4 linked regions of the Homo sapiens genome follow. The protein of the gene in region 2 purifies or fractionates together with the protein of the main gene of each other region. This does not show direct contact. Each region holds a gene or a part of one and is shown on either strand. Other genes may lie near its edges.

The links. The genes of interacting proteins can lie anywhere in the genome.
Region 1: the proteins of TTBK1 (region 2) and HEATR1 purify together in Homo sapiens (affinity purification with mass spectrometry; one large-scale study listed by BioGRID and IntAct). This does not show direct contact.
Region 3: the proteins of TTBK1 (region 2) and KDM3A purify together in Homo sapiens (affinity purification with mass spectrometry; one large-scale study listed by BioGRID and IntAct). This does not show direct contact.
Region 4: the proteins of TTBK1 (region 2) and ACSF3 purify together in Homo sapiens (affinity purification with mass spectrometry; one large-scale study listed by BioGRID and IntAct). This does not show direct contact.

What each region holds. Positions count from the first base shown.
Region 1 is NC_000001.11:236,583,535-236,587,516, reverse strand, and holds part of HEATR1 (HEAT repeat-containing protein 1), read left to right. Parts: intron 1-26; coding exon 27-115; intron 116-1,064; coding exon 1,065-1,276; intron 1,277-1,575; coding exon 1,576-1,697; intron 1,698-2,300; coding exon 2,301-2,492; intron 2,493-3,982. UniProt on the Homo sapiens protein: Ribosome biogenesis factor; required for recruitment of Myc to nucleoli. Involved in nucleolar processing of pre-18S ribosomal RNA. Required for optimal pre-ribosomal RNA transcription by RNA polymerase I.
Region 2 is NC_000006.12:43,280,564-43,285,972, forward strand, and holds part of TTBK1 (tau-tubulin kinase 1), read left to right. Parts: intron 1-2,163; coding exon 2,164-3,749; intron 3,750-4,416; coding exon of another isoform or gene 4,417-4,419; coding exon 4,420-4,813; 3' UTR 4,814-5,409. UniProt on the Homo sapiens protein: Serine/threonine kinase which is able to phosphorylate TAU on serine, threonine and tyrosine residues. Induces aggregation of TAU.
Region 3 is NC_000002.12:86,479,371-86,483,352, forward strand, and holds part of KDM3A (lysine-specific demethylase 3A), read left to right. Parts: intron 1-796; coding exon 797-992; intron 993-2,559; coding exon 2,560-2,732; intron 2,733-3,087; coding exon 3,088-3,324; intron 3,325-3,982. UniProt on the Homo sapiens protein: Histone demethylase that specifically demethylates 'Lys-9' of histone H3, thereby playing a central role in histone code.
Region 4 is NC_000016.10:89,100,352-89,104,333, forward strand, and holds part of ACSF3 (malonate--CoA ligase ACSF3, mitochondrial isoform 1 precursor), read left to right. Parts: intron 1-310; 5' UTR 311-330; coding exon 331-996; intron 997-2,252; coding exon 2,253-2,408; intron 2,409-3,982. UniProt on the Homo sapiens protein: Catalyzes the initial reaction in intramitochondrial fatty acid synthesis, by activating malonate and methylmalonate, but not acetate, into their respective CoA thioester. May have some preference toward very-long-chain substrates.

The DNA.
Region 1 (3,982 bases), on a different chromosome or scaffold from region 2:
TACTCTGGATATTTTTTTCCCTTTAGATTTTCAAAGAACACTTCAGTTCAGAAGTGACGATTTCAAATCTTCTGAATCTCTTTCAAAGAGCAGAACTTTCAAAGAATGGAGAATGGTATGTATTCATTTCTCCTCATACTATTTTGAATTGATGAAGTTCTTATATCAAGTTCTTTCTATTTCTTCTTCTTTTTTTTTTTAAGGCTTTGATTACATGACCCTTTTGTCGTGGTAGTAGAACAGATCTTACTGTAATACTCTCTTTCATTATACAGTTAATTAATTTGTGTTTGTGTGTGTTCATTATACTGTTCTCTATGTTTGGAATTTCTCTTAATAAAATGCAAAAGGAAGTATATAATGTATGATATTGCATTCTGGGAAGTAAGATGGGTAGGACTTTCTAATTTGCTGCTTTATGTAATTTTTACTTTATAATTAAAAACAAATACCAATGTGTTAAACAAATTAAAAAATAAGTTCAGAGACACATGATACCATCTGTGGTAAGTTTTTAATGAGCTCTGTTTATTTCATTTTTGGCACCAAAGCTTTTTGCAAGAAAAAGTAAGCAAGCTCCATAGAGGATGAGAGTGTGTCTTACGTGTTTTTGTATCTATCGTATGGGTAGATATCTATCATGTAGGATGTGCTTGGTTCATTTTTTTTGAGTGCCTGAGTGAACCTGATTTCCGGTAGAGTTGAGACATCTAGTGTGATATGTCTTATGTTATAGTTAACCTCTAGTGATTTCTCTAAGAAAAATTATTATTTTTTTTTTAAGATTAGACAGGATGAGCAGATTAAAAGTATTGTTGGCCAGGCACAGTGGCTCATGCCTGTAATCCCAGCACTTGTACAAAAAATAAATAAATAAAAATATTGTCACAGATAACTCTGTTATTGGCATGGATTTTAAGTGGTGTCTTAGTGTATCTGAATAATAGTTTTGGTCAGGAGACCAGGATATTGTCAGTTAAGCTGGAGTAATGTAATGATGAATTTTTGCCCAATTGAAGCCTTCCAATGTGTCTTTCAACCAAGTGTGCTTGCATGTCTTTTAGGTACGAGGTACTTAAGATAGCCGCTGACATATTAATTAAAGAAGAGATACTGAGTGAAAATGATCAGTTGTCAAATCAGGTGGTTGTATGTTTGCTGCCATTTATGGTTATCAATAATGATGATACGGAATCTGCTGAGATGAAAATTGCTATATATTTATCAAAATCAGGAATCTGCTCCCTGCACCCTCTATTAAGAGGCTGGGAAGAAGGTAAAAAATTCAGTTGTTTTTTTAGAAAAAGTGAACAGATAACACAAAAGAAAACAAGGAAAATTTAAAATTTATTGTTGGTCATGCTTATATGCCAGTAAGGTCTTTTAAAATTTTTGCCAAGATAAAAAGTATACAGTGAAAAGGAAGCCAATTCATAGACAAATTCAGAATCGGATACAAGGAAAAATAGAAAGCAAACCTTCATAAACAATAGTAAAATGTTTGCCTGAATTCTTCATGTGATTCTTTGAGTGTTGGTGACATAAGAGCTCTCTGCATTCGATTTTACTTTACAGCTCTTGAAAATGTAATTAAAAGCACAAAGCCAGGAAAACTAATCGGTGTAGCAAATCAGAAGATGATTGAGTTGTTGGCTGATAATATAAATTTAGGAGATCCTTCTTCAATGTTAAAGATGGTAAGTATGCTTTGAAAGTCCACCCCCTGGATTTCTTTCTCATACTCTTATTAAATTCTCAGCTTTTGCTTTACTAGATTTTTCTTAAAAAAAATTTCTTTTATTCTTGAGTACTTGGTTTTACTTTAAACGTTGCAGTGTTGTTTAATATATTCTGTGCAATGTTTGAAATCTTTTAACATTTTATATATTTTTTCAATGTGGATCCATATCACACCCATAAGAATAATATATCCTTTTTACCACCATTTTTTCTCATTCCCATTTAAAATATTAGTCTTTTTGTTGTTGTTGTTGTTAAAATAGCAAAATATAATCCCAAAGAGGAGAAAATTATCTTTGCCTTATTAAATAAACCTTTGTAAAGGATTAGATGTGTGATTTAAATACATTAACCAGTTGGCAAGTGCAATTATGTTCATTACAGTTTCTGAAATTATTCTTATAATTACTTAGAAATCAGTGCTTAGTACTTTATAAAGGCTTTCTGTTTGTCATCTCACTTTAAATGTAAAACACATAATACCTAGATAGACCTGAGTTGAAAAAATTGTTTTATGAAAATCAAGAGCAACTGGTAATAGAGTGTGTTTATTTTTCAAGGTGGAGGATTTAATAAGCGTGGGTGAGGAGGAGTCCTTTAACCTGAAGCAGAAAGTAACGTTTCATGTGATCCTGTCTGTGCTCGTCTCTTGTTGTTCATCTTTAAAAGAAACCCACTTTCCATTTGCGATAAGAGTCTTCAGTTTGTTGCAGAAAAAAATAAAGAAGCTTGAAAGTGTCATTACTGCAGTGGTAAGGAAAGCAGAATCTCCAGAAAGTGGGATGTTGAATAAAACAACAGCCTGGCCTATTAGTCACAGCAAAACTGAAAATCAGAGGCGAGATGTTGAGTCTGTGGATAGTAGCTGGATGAAATGTGAAGCAGTCTTGGGTAGCAGTGAGATAGTCAACTAGGCACTCCCTTGCTTTTGCGGAAAGTTTAGTTGAATTATAAAATTTTAGGGTTGCAATATTTTGTATCTGATGCCTGACTCTCCTCTCTTTTATTGTCTTTATTGGATAATTACCCAAGCTACACCTAACTACCTCTAGCGATGAAGAATTCACTTGGTGTGTTAGTGCTTGAACAAAATACTATTTCATTCAATTGTTTACTAAAAATAGATCTTTTAGGCTTTAAATAATTTTAATATTACATAGATGTGTATCCCTCCAGCCTACTACTGTCTTTCATAGTATTACTAAAGGACATGTTTCAGCTGTTTACATTTGACATGTTTTGAGGTAGCAAGACTTTTTTTTTAATATCTGCTATATGTAAGGATTTTGTTTTTATTTGTCCTCCAAATTTTAGAGGGCTTCTCATTATAGGATTTACTAAATGAATTATATCTTTTTCACATTTACGTATACCCGCAGGATTTTATAAGTTCTGATCATGGCCATTGTTAGCTAAAATGTGTAAACTTTAAAAAGAGTAAAATCTTCATATTTTGAAAAATAGTCCAGATAGGCCCTTCTTAACTTTTAGTTTCTTGGTGTCTTTTGTGAAGTATGATGACCTGAACTATACTGGTTCTCAGTGTTAAAAGTATGGACAAATAGAGTGTTTTATTATACATATGTAGATAACAGGTTATTTTATATTGCTTTACTTTTAATACCTTTCTCGAGGTCATGAGCATGTTTTCGCCTGTAGCAGCACGTTGAGTTAATCAAATCCCTCACTGGAGACGTTACATTGTAAATCTGGCTTTGGATTATTTTCCTTCTAAGTTATTACTCTGTACTGCTTGTACAGAGTCATATTTGTCATTTTCTTACACCTGTTCTGCATTCTTTTGGCACTTACAGTATAATTTCTAAACACCTAACATTTTGCTGCTTGTTTAAAATCATCTGCAGGTTTGGAGATTTTTGCCATGTACCTTATTCAGATTAGTGGTAAAACAGTGAAATCAAAGAATTCCCTTTAACTATGTCTTGGCAATCCAACTGTTTATCTTCCTGTTTTGAAATATACCTATTTTGGCCAGGCACGGTAGCTCACGCCTATAATCCCAGCATTTTGGGAGGCCGAGGCGGGTGGATCATCTGAGGACAGGAGTTCGAGACCAACCTGGCCAAAATGGTGAAACCTAATCTCTACTAAAGATACAAAAATTAGCCAGGCATGATGGCGGGCACCTGTAATCCTTCCTACTCGGGAGGCTGAAGCAGTAGAATTGCTTGAACCTGGGAAGCGGAGGTTGCAGTGAGCTGAGATTGTGCCGCTGCACTCC
Region 2 (5,409 bases):
CTTAGACTATAACATGGTGACCAGGACAAGAGACATTCAAAGACCACTTCTTGAGGGAGTAAATGAAGAAACCCTCAGGGATCTCTGTGTATCAGGAGAGGGAACCCTATAAATACACGCATGTAGGACAATAGGTGGGAGATTCTCTCACAGAAGGATGTGGAAAACAAGTAGAAAAGGGAGAATAAGTAAATCTGCTTGGTGGGTGGACAGGAAAGTTGACAGGAAGGCTTTGTCTCCTCTTTGCTAAGACCAGGAGCTGTTTGAGCTGGTCTTGAAGGAAGGGTAGCAAGTTATCATGTGCAGAGAGGAGGTGAGAGGAGCCCCCAGGTGGAGGAAACTGCCTGGGCTAAGTGTGAGCTGGAAGATGCACTTAGGAACTTCTGGAAGCATCGGAATGCGTGGAGTGTAGGCAGGGGCAGGGGACGGAGGGTGTTGCAATAAGTGAGACCAGAGCAGCCAGTAGTAGCCAGGTCACAGGGCTGGGTGGGGGATTCATGGGCCAAGTCAAAGATCTGAACTGTCTTAGGCCAGGCGTGGTGGCTCACGCCTGTAATCCCAGCACTCTGGGAGGCCGAAGCGGGTGGATCACCTGAGGTCAGGAGTTTGAGACCAGCCTGGCCAACACGGCGAAACCCCGTCTCTACTAAGAATAAAAAAAAATTAGCCGGGCGTGGTGGCGGGCACCTGTAATCCCAGCTACTAGGGAGGCTGAGATGGGAGAATCACTTGAACCCGGGAGGCAGAGGTTGCAGTGAGCCGAGATCGTGCCACTGCACTCCAGCCTGGGCGACAGAGCAGGGCTCCATATCAAAAAAAAAAAAAAAAAAGATCTGAACTGTCTCCTAAGGACTGTGGCAGCCATAGCAGATTTGAAGCAGAGAGAGATGGAATCAGATTAAGTTTCAGGAAGATCACTCAGGCAGATGTAAAAAGGATGGACGGCAGTGCAGAATGGAGAGAACAGGCCGGTGGCTGGGGAACCACCAGGAAAGGCAAGGCTGTGCTCGTGGGCCTGGGGTAGCAGACACAGAGAAGTTTAAGAAGGATGCTTGGCAGGACTCCTTGGCAGCGTAGATGGGCAGGAAAGTGGGGAGGCAGGATATCCCCGGGGCTTCTGGTCTGGATGGGCTGTGTTCGGCTAGCTTAGGAAGACAGAAGCCCAGCGTGTTCGAAAATGCTAGCAAAGTGCTGGACATCGTCAGCACCGTCCCACCATGGAACAAAGCTGTGTCAGCCCTGATGCGCCCAGGGCATTGCGGGTGCCTGGGGATGTCTGTGTATTGAACAGGGTGGAGCTAGAGTGAAGGAGACACAGCAGCCAAGGTCCTGACCAGGTGGTCAGACCTTTCTAGTCTGGAAGGAAGGAGGCTAAGGGGGACATGGCAAGAGTCTAGAAAACCAAGGACTGCTTTGTCCATCACATTGCCAAGGGCTCTGCACAAAACTTTGAAGAGGAAAATGGAATGGAGCTCAAGTATACCTGTCGAGGGCTGGACAAATTCCTGGCTGAGAGGATGGATTGGAGGTCGAGGGGCCCAGCCTGCACTTTTAAGGGTAGAGGACAGCCCCGCCTTTGCCCTTGTCCAGCACAGGATCTGGTGGCCCTGGGCAGCCAGCTCTCTGGCCACAGAGAAACTGCACACCCTGAGGTGGTACTGAGGGCATCTAGGAGCCAGCCCGGCACAGCCCATCCAGGAAGTGGCACAGATACTTGCCGCCGTCTCTGGACCTGGCTTTCTCATCTGTAAAAGGAAGGGCTGATCTGCGTGGTGGTCGTGGTTCCTTCCAGTTTTCATTTTCTGTTATTGTTGCTGACTCGGGTGCAGGATGCACATGGCGATGAGAGGGGCTGGGGACATAGAGAGGCTGGGAGGCAGAAAGGCCACCAGGATCAGGGCCTGGGACTTCAGGGGACCTAGAGCATGGACAGTCATTCATCAGAGGTTTCCTGAGCACTCACTAGGCGCCAGAGACCATTCTAGGCCCTGGGGACAGAGCAGTGAACAAGACAGACCCAGTGCCTGTGCTTAACTTTATGGAGCTCACACTCTGGTAGACGACCTGGGCCTGTGAGTCTCCTAGGTTGTGGGTGCAGCTGAAGTCTTCCTGGGCCCAGGAGGGTGGGTGACCTCAGAGGGTCCCTGTGTATGCCCCTTGCAGGTGTTCTCCGTGGCGCCCCCATTTGAGGTGAATGGCCTCCCACGAGCTGTGCCTCTGAGTCTGCCCTACCAGGACTTCAAAAGAGACCTCTCCGATTACCGAGAACGGGCGCGGTTGCTCAACAGGGTCCGGAGGGTGGGCTTCTCGCACATGCTGCTCACCACCCCCCAGGTCCCACTGGCTCCTGTTCAGCCTCAGGCTAATGGGAAGGAGGAAGAGGAGGAGGAGGAGGAAGATGAGGAAGAGGAAGAAGAGGATGAGGAAGAAGAAGAGGAGGAAGAGGAAGAGGAGGAGGAAGAAGAGGAGGAGGAGGAAGAGGAGGAGGAGGCTGCAGCGGCAGTTGCCTTGGGGGAGGTGCTGGGGCCTCGTAGTGGCTCCAGCAGTGAGGGGAGTGAGAGGAGCACTGACCGGAGCCAGGAGGGTGCCCCGTCCACGCTGCTGGCAGACGATCAGAAGGAGTCCAGGGGCCGGGCCTCCATGGCCGATGGGGACCTGGAGCCTGAGGAGGGCTCCAAAACGCTGGTGCTTGTCTCTCCTGGCGACATGAAGAAGTCGCCCGTCACTGCCGAACTGGCCCCCGACCCCGACCTGGGCACCCTGGCTGCCCTCACTCCTCAGCATGAGCGGCCCCAGCCCACGGGCAGCCAGCTGGACGTATCTGAGCCAGGCACCCTGTCCTCTGTCCTCAAGTCTGAGCCCAAGCCCCCGGGGCCTGGGGCAGGGCTGGGGGCCGGGACAGTGACCACAGGGGTCGGGGGCGTGGCAGTCACCTCCTCACCCTTCACCAAAGTTGAGAGGACCTTTGTGCACATTGCGGAGAAAACCCACCTCAACGTCATGTCTTCCGGTGGACAAGCCTTGCGGTCTGAGGAGTTCAGCGCTGGGGGCGAGCTGGGTCTGGAGCTGGCCTCTGATGGGGGCGCTGTGGAGGAGGGGGCCCGAGCGCCCCTGGAGAACGGCCTCGCCCTGTCAGGGCTGAATGGGGCTGAGATAGAGGGCTCTGCCCTGTCTGGGGCCCCCCGGGAAACCCCCTCAGAGATGGCCACAAACTCACTGCCCAATGGCCCGGCCCTTGCAGACGGGCCAGCCCCGGTGTCCCCGCTGGAGCCAAGCCCTGAGAAAGTGGCCACCATCTCCCCCAGACGCCATGCTATGCCAGGCTCTCGCCCCAGGAGCCGTATCCCTGTCCTGCTCTCTGAGGAGGACACGGGCTCGGAGCCCTCAGGCTCACTGTCGGCCAAAGAGCGGTGGAGCAAGCGGGCTCGGCCGCAGCAGGACCTGGCGCGGCTGGTGATGGAGAAGAGGCAGGGCCGCCTGCTGTTGCGGCTGGCCTCAGGGGCCTCGTCCTCCTCCAGTGAGGAGCAGCGCCGTGCCTCTGAGACCCTCTCAGGCACGGGCTCTGAGGAGGACACGCCCGCCTCTGAGCCGGCAGCGGCCTTGCCCAGGAAGAGCGGGAGGGCAGCCGCCACCAGGAGCCGGATTCCCCGCCCCATTGGCCTCCGCATGCCCATGCCTGTTGCAGCCCAGCAGCCCGCCAGCAGATCCCATGGCGCGGCCCCAGCATTGGACACAGCCATCACCAGCAGGTGAGAAACCGCTGCCAGCCCCAGGGTGGGCAGAGGGTGGCCACAGGCCTCCACCAGGAGGGGCTTCTCCAGAACCAAGGTCAGGGGCTATGGAAGATCAGGAGGGACCCTCAGTGACACCTCCTGTCCAGCACCTCCCAACTGTGCTCTGCCTCACTCTGATTCGGGTTCCAGCCCTGTCACTGGGCTCAGTGAAGTGGCTTCAGTAAGCATGTGTGGAGGGGGTGCCGGAGAGGCCAGGCTTAGGAAAAGCTGATGGGGGCCAGTGGGTCCACACACAGCCTCTGGTATGCCATGGGGCATTGGAAGCCAAAGGATAAAGCCCAGTGCTTTGACTCCTTGGGAGAAAACATTATTTCATATTAATATAAACATAGGTATATTCTAGGTTAGAATGCAAAATCCATGAGAATTTTAAAGATGAAATGAGGACCCCAAAGAAAGCCAGCAGCAGGCTCTTCCAGCAGCAGCCTGGAAGCGTGTGGCCCCTCGAGGTCCTGCCCTGGAGGACAGAGAGCCAGGCCTCAGTTTACCCATCTGTGCCATGGTCTCAGTCTCAGCTCTGAGGATGCCGGACTCCAGTGCTCAGTGCCCAGGAGGATTCTGAAATATTTCTCCTTGTTTTGTTTCTTTGCCCTCTTCTTTTCTCCTGCCTTCTGCTCTCAAGCAGGCTCCAGCTGCAGACGCCCCCAGGGTCGGCCACTGCTGCTGACCTCCGCCCCAAACAACCTCCTGGCCGCGGCCTGGGCCCAGGGCGAGCCCAAGCCGGAGCCAGGCCCCCAGCGCCGCGCAGCCCGCGCCTCCCCGCGTCCACATCCGCCGCGCGCAATGCCAGCGCGTCCCCCCGGAGCCAGTCCCTGTCCCGCAGAGAGAGCCCCTCCCCCTCGCACCAGGCCCGGCCCGGGGTCCCCCCGCCCCGGGGCGTCCCGCCGGCCCGGGCCCAGCCTGATGGCACCCCCTCCCCCGGGGGCTCCAAGAAAGGACCCAGAGGGAAACTCCAGGCTCAGCGCGCAACAACCAAAGGCCGGGCAGGAGGCGCGGAGGGCCGGGCTGGGGCCAGATAATGACGCCCGCTGCTCTCCGCGGTCCCCCACCCTCACCCCGGCCCCCCACCCGCAGCCGGCCACACTGGAGCAGCTCCCAGCACAGCCTTACGCGCCCGACGCGCGCCACCCGCGGCCCCAGCTTTCCGCCTGCACCCGCGAGGACGCGCGCGAGCACACGCGGCGCCCCGCCAGGCCTTAGGGCCCGTGGGGGACGCGGCCCCGCGCCGCGGGGAGGGTCTGCCTCCCCTTCCTCGCCCTGTGTCCTCTCATCCTCCCGCCGCCCGTCAGGCCGGCCAGCCTCACATCAGTCTCTCCGCCCCGGGGAAGGCTCAGCCACTTTTCATCGAGGACTCCACTTCTGGGGACGCCTGGTTCGTTCGCCCACCAGGCCTAGGCTACGCTCCATGCTCCCCCAGCAATCTCTGCCTACACCTCCTGCGGCGCCTTGCCCTCCTCCGACCCCTTTCCAGCCAAAGTCCCCCCACCCCTTCAGAGAAGCAGCCTCAAATTCCAGAAGTGGAGGCTCCAGCCTCCCCGCGAGGGTCCAGCCCCACAGTCTTCTGGGAGCCATTGTGGCCAGGGACGGCCTCTGGACTGCCAGGCTGGGTTGGGGA
Region 3 (3,982 bases), on a different chromosome or scaffold from region 2:
GAGCAGAAGACTTGTAATATTTGGAGTCAGAACTGAATTTGAGTTCTTTTCCTTCCACGTGCTAGTTGTGTTACTTTGGCTGAAGTGAGCTGGTTTCTATGTGCTTCAGCTTCCTCATCAGTAATATAGAAATAAGAAGCAATATTGATGATTGGGCATCACAGAATTACATCACATGTAAAGAGAGGGCCTGGACCACAACAGGGGTTTGAATATTTTTTTTCCTCCTTCTTATGTATGTATAAACTCACTCTTGCCAGTTTTTAAAATTATTTTCTTCTACAGCAGTCATCTTAGATTTAATTTATGGGTTCTTTTAAGAGCTCATCACATTTTTAAAGCTAAGTCAAAATAGCATTTTCTCTTTCTCTGCATCCCATTTCCTTCTGAAATCACCGCTTTACCTTTCCTGCCTGCGTCATTTATTCGTTTTTAACCATGTTTTCTGTGCCTATCCTGAATTCTGGGATGAGTTCATAGGGGAGACAGGCACAAACTGGTCATTTTAAACCAGCATGGTACATAGAGTAATAGGGATATGTACCAGCAGGGGCTGGTGAAAGGGTGCGGGGGGTAATACCTTGCTGTGTTTAAGTTGCTGACATCTCTCCTACCTTTTAGTTATTCTCTACTAGTGCGGGATTACTGCAGCTGTGGGGATACCCAGGGCTAACTATTAGGTGGTTTTGTTCTGGATATTTATCTTACTTGTTGGTCGGCTATTAGGAGAGAAGAAAAGAAAAGGAAGCTGTCATTCTTCAGCTTATGTAAAATCGTCCTTTAATGCTTAACACAGACTTCTTTAGCTGGAGAAAAACCGACTCTTGGTGCAGTGCTCCAGCAGAATCCCTCAGTGTTGGAGCCAGCAGCTGTGGGTGGGGAAGCAGCCTCCAAGCCAGCCGGCAGCATGAAGCCTGCCTGTCCAGCCAGCACATCTCCTCTAAACTGGCTGGCCGACCTAACCAGCGGGAATGTCAACAAGGAAAACAAGGGTGAGTGTTTCCTGCTTTTGTGTTTGTTCTTGAGTATTTTAGTCCATTCGTGGAAGGACTTGAGAGAACAGTGGTTAGAAGTCGTGTGGAATGGAAAGTGCTTCTCTGGAGTCATCCTGGAACCTGCCACAAATGAAAGTGTTTTTGAAATGCAGCACCAAAGAGGAGAAATTTTGCTGCATTAAAATTTAGGGACTTCCACCTTCTGGCTGTGTTACAGAAGAGAAGAATTGCAGGCCACTTCTTTCATGCAAAGATCTGGAGCAAAATTTTAATGAATCAAATTTGACACTGTAAATGAAGGAATATTTGAATGTTAGACTACATCTGAATTTCTGGAAAAACCTTTATATAGCTTTAAAAATGTGATAAGGAGCTCTTAAAAGAACTCATAAATTAAGTCTAAGATGACTGTTGTAGAAAAAAATAATTTGAAAAGCTGGCAAGAGCACAGCTGGTGAGTTTATACATACCTTAGAAAGAGGAAAAGGAATATTCAAACTCCTGTTGTGGTCCAGGCCCTCTCTTTACATGTGATGTAATTCTGTGATGCCCAATCATCAATACTGCTCATTATTTCTGTATTACTGATGAGGAAGCTGAAGCATATAGAAACCAGCTCATTTGAGCCGAAGTAAGACAATTAGCAAGTGGCCGGAAAAGAATTCAAGTTTTTCAAGGTTTTTCCAGAAATGAAGATACAGTCTGACATTCAAAAATGTAGAAGAATCATGGGACAAGATGCAGGAAAACATTAAGTAAAATTCAGTACCTGTTAATGATTTACAAAAAACTTCTTAAATTAAGAACATTCTTAATCAAGAGTTTAAACCAAAAAACAAGACTGGAGACATCATAAATAGTCGTTGAATTTTTTTAAAAATTTGTTTTGAGTTTTTTTGAGACGGAATCTTGCTCTGTCCAGCCAGGCTGGAGTGCAGTGGCATGATCTTGGCTCACTGCAACACTGCACTCTGCCTCCCAGGTTCAAGCCATTGTCCTGCCTCAGCCTCCTAAATAGCTAGGATTATAGACGCCTGCCACCACGCCCTGCTAACATTTGTATTTTTAGTAGAAGTGGGGTTTTGCCATGTTGGCCAAGCTGGTCTTTGAGGTTTTTGTTTGTTTGGTTTTGTTTTTTTTTTTTTAAACAGTTTCTGTGTTCAAGAACAAGACAAAGGATATCTGTTTTCACTCTTTATTAAGCATTGTACTGGAAGTCCTGGTCAGTGCATTCAGGGAAAAAAAATGTGTAAAGAGAATGCTGCCAATATTTGTAGACAGTACATGCAAAAAATCCAAAAGAATCTACATTTACTAAACATTTGTCAGGGTTGCTAGATACAAAGGTCAATTTACAAAATTCCATTGTACTGGATAGTTATTGTTTTTAACATCAGTGAGGAATCGTCTAAGTAAATCATATCATTCATACTTACTCCCTAAAGTATTTTTTTTGTTTCAGTAAATAGAAAGCAAGTTCTAAAGTAATTCTGCTAGTAGAATACTAATAAGGGATTTGCCTTTCAGAATGTTTTTTCATCTGGATGTTTTGGTTTTATTTTAGAAAAACAACCAACAATGCCAATTTTAAAGAATGAAATCAAATGCCTTCCACCCCTCCCACCTTTAAGCAAATCCAGCACAGTCCTCCATACGTTTAACAGCACAATTTTGACACCCGTAAGCAACAACAATTCTGGTTTCCTCCGGAATCTCTTGAATTCTTCTACAGGAAAGGTATGTGTTTGTTTGTTGGTATTCCATGTTTTAAAGTTGAAGACAGAACAGGAAGAGAGTAGAGAAGTTGGAACTGAAAGTAGAAAGGAGACTGAATCACATACTTACCTTTGTGGGTTCAGAAGGCTGAGTCACTGGAGGATGGGTTTTATGGGACTATAGTTCTGAGCTGGGCCACTTTCTCCTGTTACCTCACTTCTATGAGTTGTCAAGTGGGGACAGGGGACGTACCTTTTTGCCTGGGGGTCCTGGCTTGGAATCTTCTGGATATGTAATCTATACTCATTATGGGAATGGAGTTTCTTGATGGTAAGGGAATGACATATTTGAGACTTTTGTTCTTTCTCCAATTCAGACAGAAAATGGACTCAAGAATACACCAAAAATCCTTGATGACATCTTTGCCTCTTTGGTGCAAAATAAGACGACTTCTGATTTATCTAAGAGGCCTCAAGGACTAACCATCAAGCCCAGCATTCTGGGCTTTGACACTCCTCACTATTGGCTTTGTGATAATCGCTTGCTGTGCTTGCAAGACCCCAACAATAAGAGCAACTGGAATGTGTTTAGGGAGTGCTGGAAACAAGGGCAGGTAATGTAGGCCTCCCATCCTCCTGCCCTATTCAGAACCCCCTTCTCAGTTCCTTTAGCAGACTTCTGACAACCCCACCCCAGGCTTTCCCCCTCCTTCACCTCCTGTTTTATTCTTTATTGTTTCAGGTGAATATAATCAGGTCAGGATGTGGCCATGGGTCTTACTTTTTAAAGCAGATGGTCCTAAGCTGGACTTTTCCAGTCAGGTTTTTGTTGCTTCCTACCAGTCCCTGTTGGGTTTTTGACGAGGGCATCCAGGCTTGGTGATTCCTATGGTAAACTTCAGCAGAGGAAGTGAGGGTGTGACTACAGGCTGATGGGATTTGGGAGATCAGACAAAATGTGCTACAAAATCATGCACCCCTCTTACCTGAATGAAAAGCCTGTGCTGAAGGCAGTTCTAGGTGGGCTAGGGCCGCGTGGTGTCACATAGTCCCCAGGTGCCTGCTTCAAAGGGCAGTGTTGTTGGATCTTAAGTGCCGGTTAATATCTTTAGGAGAATTTCTAGGCCTGCTTCTGTGCTTTCTTGTTTTGGTTCTGTTTTCTGGATCTCTGGCTTCTCTGTTTGGCCAGATAGGGTCTTTGCTAAAGGAACACTCTGCTCTTGGACAAGAATTTGGGAGAATTGCCAAACAGAAAGATGTGAGTGTTTAACC
Region 4 (3,982 bases), on a different chromosome or scaffold from region 2:
TTAAGTGTGTTGAATTTTATATGCTTCTCCTTGGTTTTACCTAGTTTATTTCATTGTTTAGAATTTTGTGTGGTTTGGGAATCCTTAAACTCATGAAGTGAAATAGAAAGCTGAGATGCTGGGCACGTACGGAACGTTCCAGCAGTGTGGGTGAGAAAGGCTGGACGTGGCCTGTCTGGTGCGCTGCCTCATGACTGAAGGTGCAGCAGGCGTACCTGGCTGGGTACTGGGGAGGTGTTTTAAATCCTGTCTTGGCCACGTTTGGATGGGACAGTTGGGCACTCACGTCCTGTGCCTTGCCTTTCTCCAGCTCGGCCGCCTGTCAGTGCAATGCTGCCCCATGTGGTGCTCACCTTCCGGCGCCTGGGCTGCGCCTTGGCGTCCTGCCGGCTGGCGCCTGCGAGACACAGAGGAAGTGGTCTTCTGCACACAGCCCCAGTGGCCCGCTCGGACAGGAGCGCCCCGGTGTTCACCCGTGCCCTGGCCTTTGGGGACAGAATCGCCCTGGTTGACCAGCACGGCCGCCACACGTACAGGGAGCTTTATTCCCGCAGCCTTCGCCTGTCCCAGGAGATCTGCAGGCTCTGCGGGTGTGTCGGCGGGGACCTCCGGGAGGAGAGGGTCTCCTTCCTATGCGCTAACGATGCCTCCTACGTCGTGGCCCAGTGGGCGTCATGGATGAGTGGCGGTGTGGCAGTCCCCCTCTACAGGAAGCATCCCGCGGCCCAGCTGGAGTATGTCATCTGCGACTCCCAGAGCTCTGTGGTCCTTGCCAGCCAGGAGTACCTGGAGCTCCTGAGCCCGGTGGTCAGGAAGCTGGGGGTCCCGCTGCTGCCGCTCACACCAGCCATCTACACTGGAGCAGTAGAGGAACCGGCAGAGGTCCCGGTCCCAGAGCAGGGATGGAGGAACAAGGGCGCCATGATCATCTACACCAGTGGGACCACGGGGAGGCCCAAGGGCGTGCTGAGCACGCACCAAAACATCAGGGCTGTGGTGAGTGCCGCCTGGCGCCGTGATGGTTTCGGTGACCGCACAGCACTCCGGGTGGGCTCCGGGCCAGAAGCACATCTTTTCATTCGCTTTTCTGTGGAGTCATTCACAGTTGTCACCATCCTGCAGACCCGTGTGAGATACAGGGACGCAGGCCCTCGGGGTGTGGCCGCTGGCCTCACTGGCCACGCAGGACGGCTCTGGGAGCGTCCAGGTGTAGAGGGATTGAGGGGCCGCCGAGTGACCCTGCCAGGACCATGCGGCATGAGGTCAGAAGGGACCACTCACTGCCTGTGATGCTGAGGGGCTTTTCGGAGGCCAGCCACGTGTTAGGATGCGTGGTCAGGACCCCACATACACCCGGGTCTTACTCGTTTTTTGTGTGTCCTGTGACCTCAGTCACATCTTCACAGAACTCTCCAACCACATCACTTACCTGGCATTTGTACAGTGTCATAACGTCTCCTATGCACTTGAAGCAATCAAGTAAAAATGAAAACCAAAAGCCAGGAAGGGGAAGGCAGGAAGTGTACCCCACGGAGTCGTGGGCTGACGAGGCGCCATGAGCACACAGCAGGCTGGGCCCTGGGTGGCCTGCGCCGTCACTCCTGGAAGCGGCGCGCCTGTCGGGAGGGACGGGCTCTGGACTCCTCTGTCCTTGCTGAGGGGAGTGACATGCACATGTGCTTCTCCCTGGAGCCTGTGCAGGCAGCAGGCAGTGTCCTCCGTGAGATTGGACAGAGGATTCAGTGGGCCGTGCCTCACGCTGCTTCTCAGTAAGAGCTGAGGGTGTGCTCTGGAGCCTGGCCTGGGTTCTGTCCCGGCTGAGCAGGTGACGATAATTCACGAATCGGCAGAGCTCTGTGTGGGCAGTGCTGTCACCTGAGCCAGTGGTTGGGCTGGGAGTCGATTCCAGCCTGAATGGCGCTGGGTCCCTGAGTCCCAGGCTTGGGCAGGGGCGGAGCTCTGTCGACCTGGTGTCTGCAGAGCCACTCCCCGACCTTCTAAATTCCCTAAAGCCTCTGGCTGTGTGTGGCGCTGTCCTCTGTCCCCAGGGTAAGTGAGTGACCCAGCAGATCTGCTGTGGTTTTGTCGTCATCTTGAGAGGCTGCTAAAGGGGAGCAACAAAGAGCCAGCCTTCTCCTTCCCCTTCCTCAGTGGGGAGGCCCAGAGCTCCTTTCCGTGAGCCCGAGGTCTGTGTGTGCTGTTGCGGGCCACAGTCTTGCTCTTGCTCTCAGCTGTGCTCTCGTCCCCTGCAGGTGACCGGGCTGGTCCACAAGTGGGCATGGACCAAAGACGACGTGATCCTCCACGTGCTCCCGCTGCACCACGTCCATGGTGTGGTCAACGCGCTGCTCTGTCCTCTCTGGGTGGGAGCCACCTGTGTGATGATGCCTGAGTTCAGCCCTCAGCAGGTGAGTTGGGGTCAGGGCTCTCGGTTGCACCCTCAGACTAGGCGCCTTTCCCCTGTCGGGGCCAGGGCTCTCAGCCGCGCCCTCAGCCTAAGCGCCTTTCGCTGGTTGGGGTCAGGGCTCTCGGCCGCGCCCTCAGACTAGGCATCTTTTCCTGGTGTGCAGTCGCCCCTATCCACAGGGGACGTGCCAATGCCGAGACCCTGGGTAGCATGGAACCCTGTACCTACGATGCTTTTTGCTATACATACGTACCTATGATAAAGCTTAATTTATAAGTTAGGCACAGTAAGAGGTTAACAATAACAGAACAGTTATAACCATGTACTGTAATCAAGTTATGTGAAAGTGCTCTCTCTCTTCAAAATACCTTCCGGTACTGTGCTCGTCTGTTGTGAGACTGCAGTGGGCCACGCGTCATTGAAACCGTGAATAGTGAGACTGGATGAGCGGAGGTGACTGTACAGGCCCTGCTGCCCGCGAGCTCCTGCGGCTGCGGCGAATGCTCACGCGCTTGGTTTAAAATAATGCGAGTTTGTTCTTACATGCTTGGAGGCCAGGATTCTGAGACGAGTCTTGCGGAGCTGATGCTGGGTGTGGTAGGGCTGCTCCGTCAGGAGGCTCCAGGGCAAAGTCCGTTCCTGCCTCTTGCAGCTCTGGAGGCCGCCTGTGCCCTTGGCTCCAGCTGCTTCACGTCCAGCTCTGCTTCTGCAGGCACACGGCCTTCTCTCCGTAGTCAGGGCTCCCTCGGCTTCCCTTTGTGCAGCCTATGCGGATATTCCAAGATCATCTCCCATCTTGAGGTCCTTCGCTTCATCCACCTGCAGTTCCCACCACTGCGAGAGGTGACACATTCGGGGTGTAGGGCGTAGGGCGTGACCCTTTGAGCTATGATGTGGCCACTGTGGCAGCCCTCGGTTACTCCAGAGTACTGGCCCAGCTGGAGAGCTGCTTGCTGCGGAGGGTTACTTTGGAGTATTGGCCCAGCTGAAGGGCTGCTGTGGAGTCTCTGTCTCCCCTCTCTGCATGGCTTCCTCTGTAGCGTCTCCCTTGGAGCAGGCAGGGAGGGAAGGACGCGGTGCTGGTCACACAGAGCGCTGGGGTGGGAGCAGTCATCGCCGAGCTGCTGCGCGCAGCCTTGCCTGTGCAGGGCTGTCTCCAGGCAGATCAGGGATGCTGCTTTGGAGGGAAAGGACCTGGGCTCGAGGCGGGACCCTGTGCACAGCATCGGGCCTCGCCTGTCAGTTGGGGATGGCGGTGGCTTTTAGGAGTTGCTGTGGCCCTGTGTGCATTCTAGCTGACTGCAGGCAAGAGTCACTCACCAGGCTGCAGAGGGCATGAGGGGCAGGCCTTGAGCCCACAGGAAGGACACGGTGTGCGTATGTCACAGGTGTGGTGAAGCAGAGCCCTCCGGTGAGGCCATGGACGTTTACCAGCCTCTGCCCGTATAATGAATATGCCTTTTATTCACAGGAAAAAAAGTTTAACACGTGAATGTATGGAAAAGCCCTTAGAATTTGGATCGTATCATGATGGTTCTCAGCACAGAGGAGCCCATCTCTGAGGCCAGATGCCTG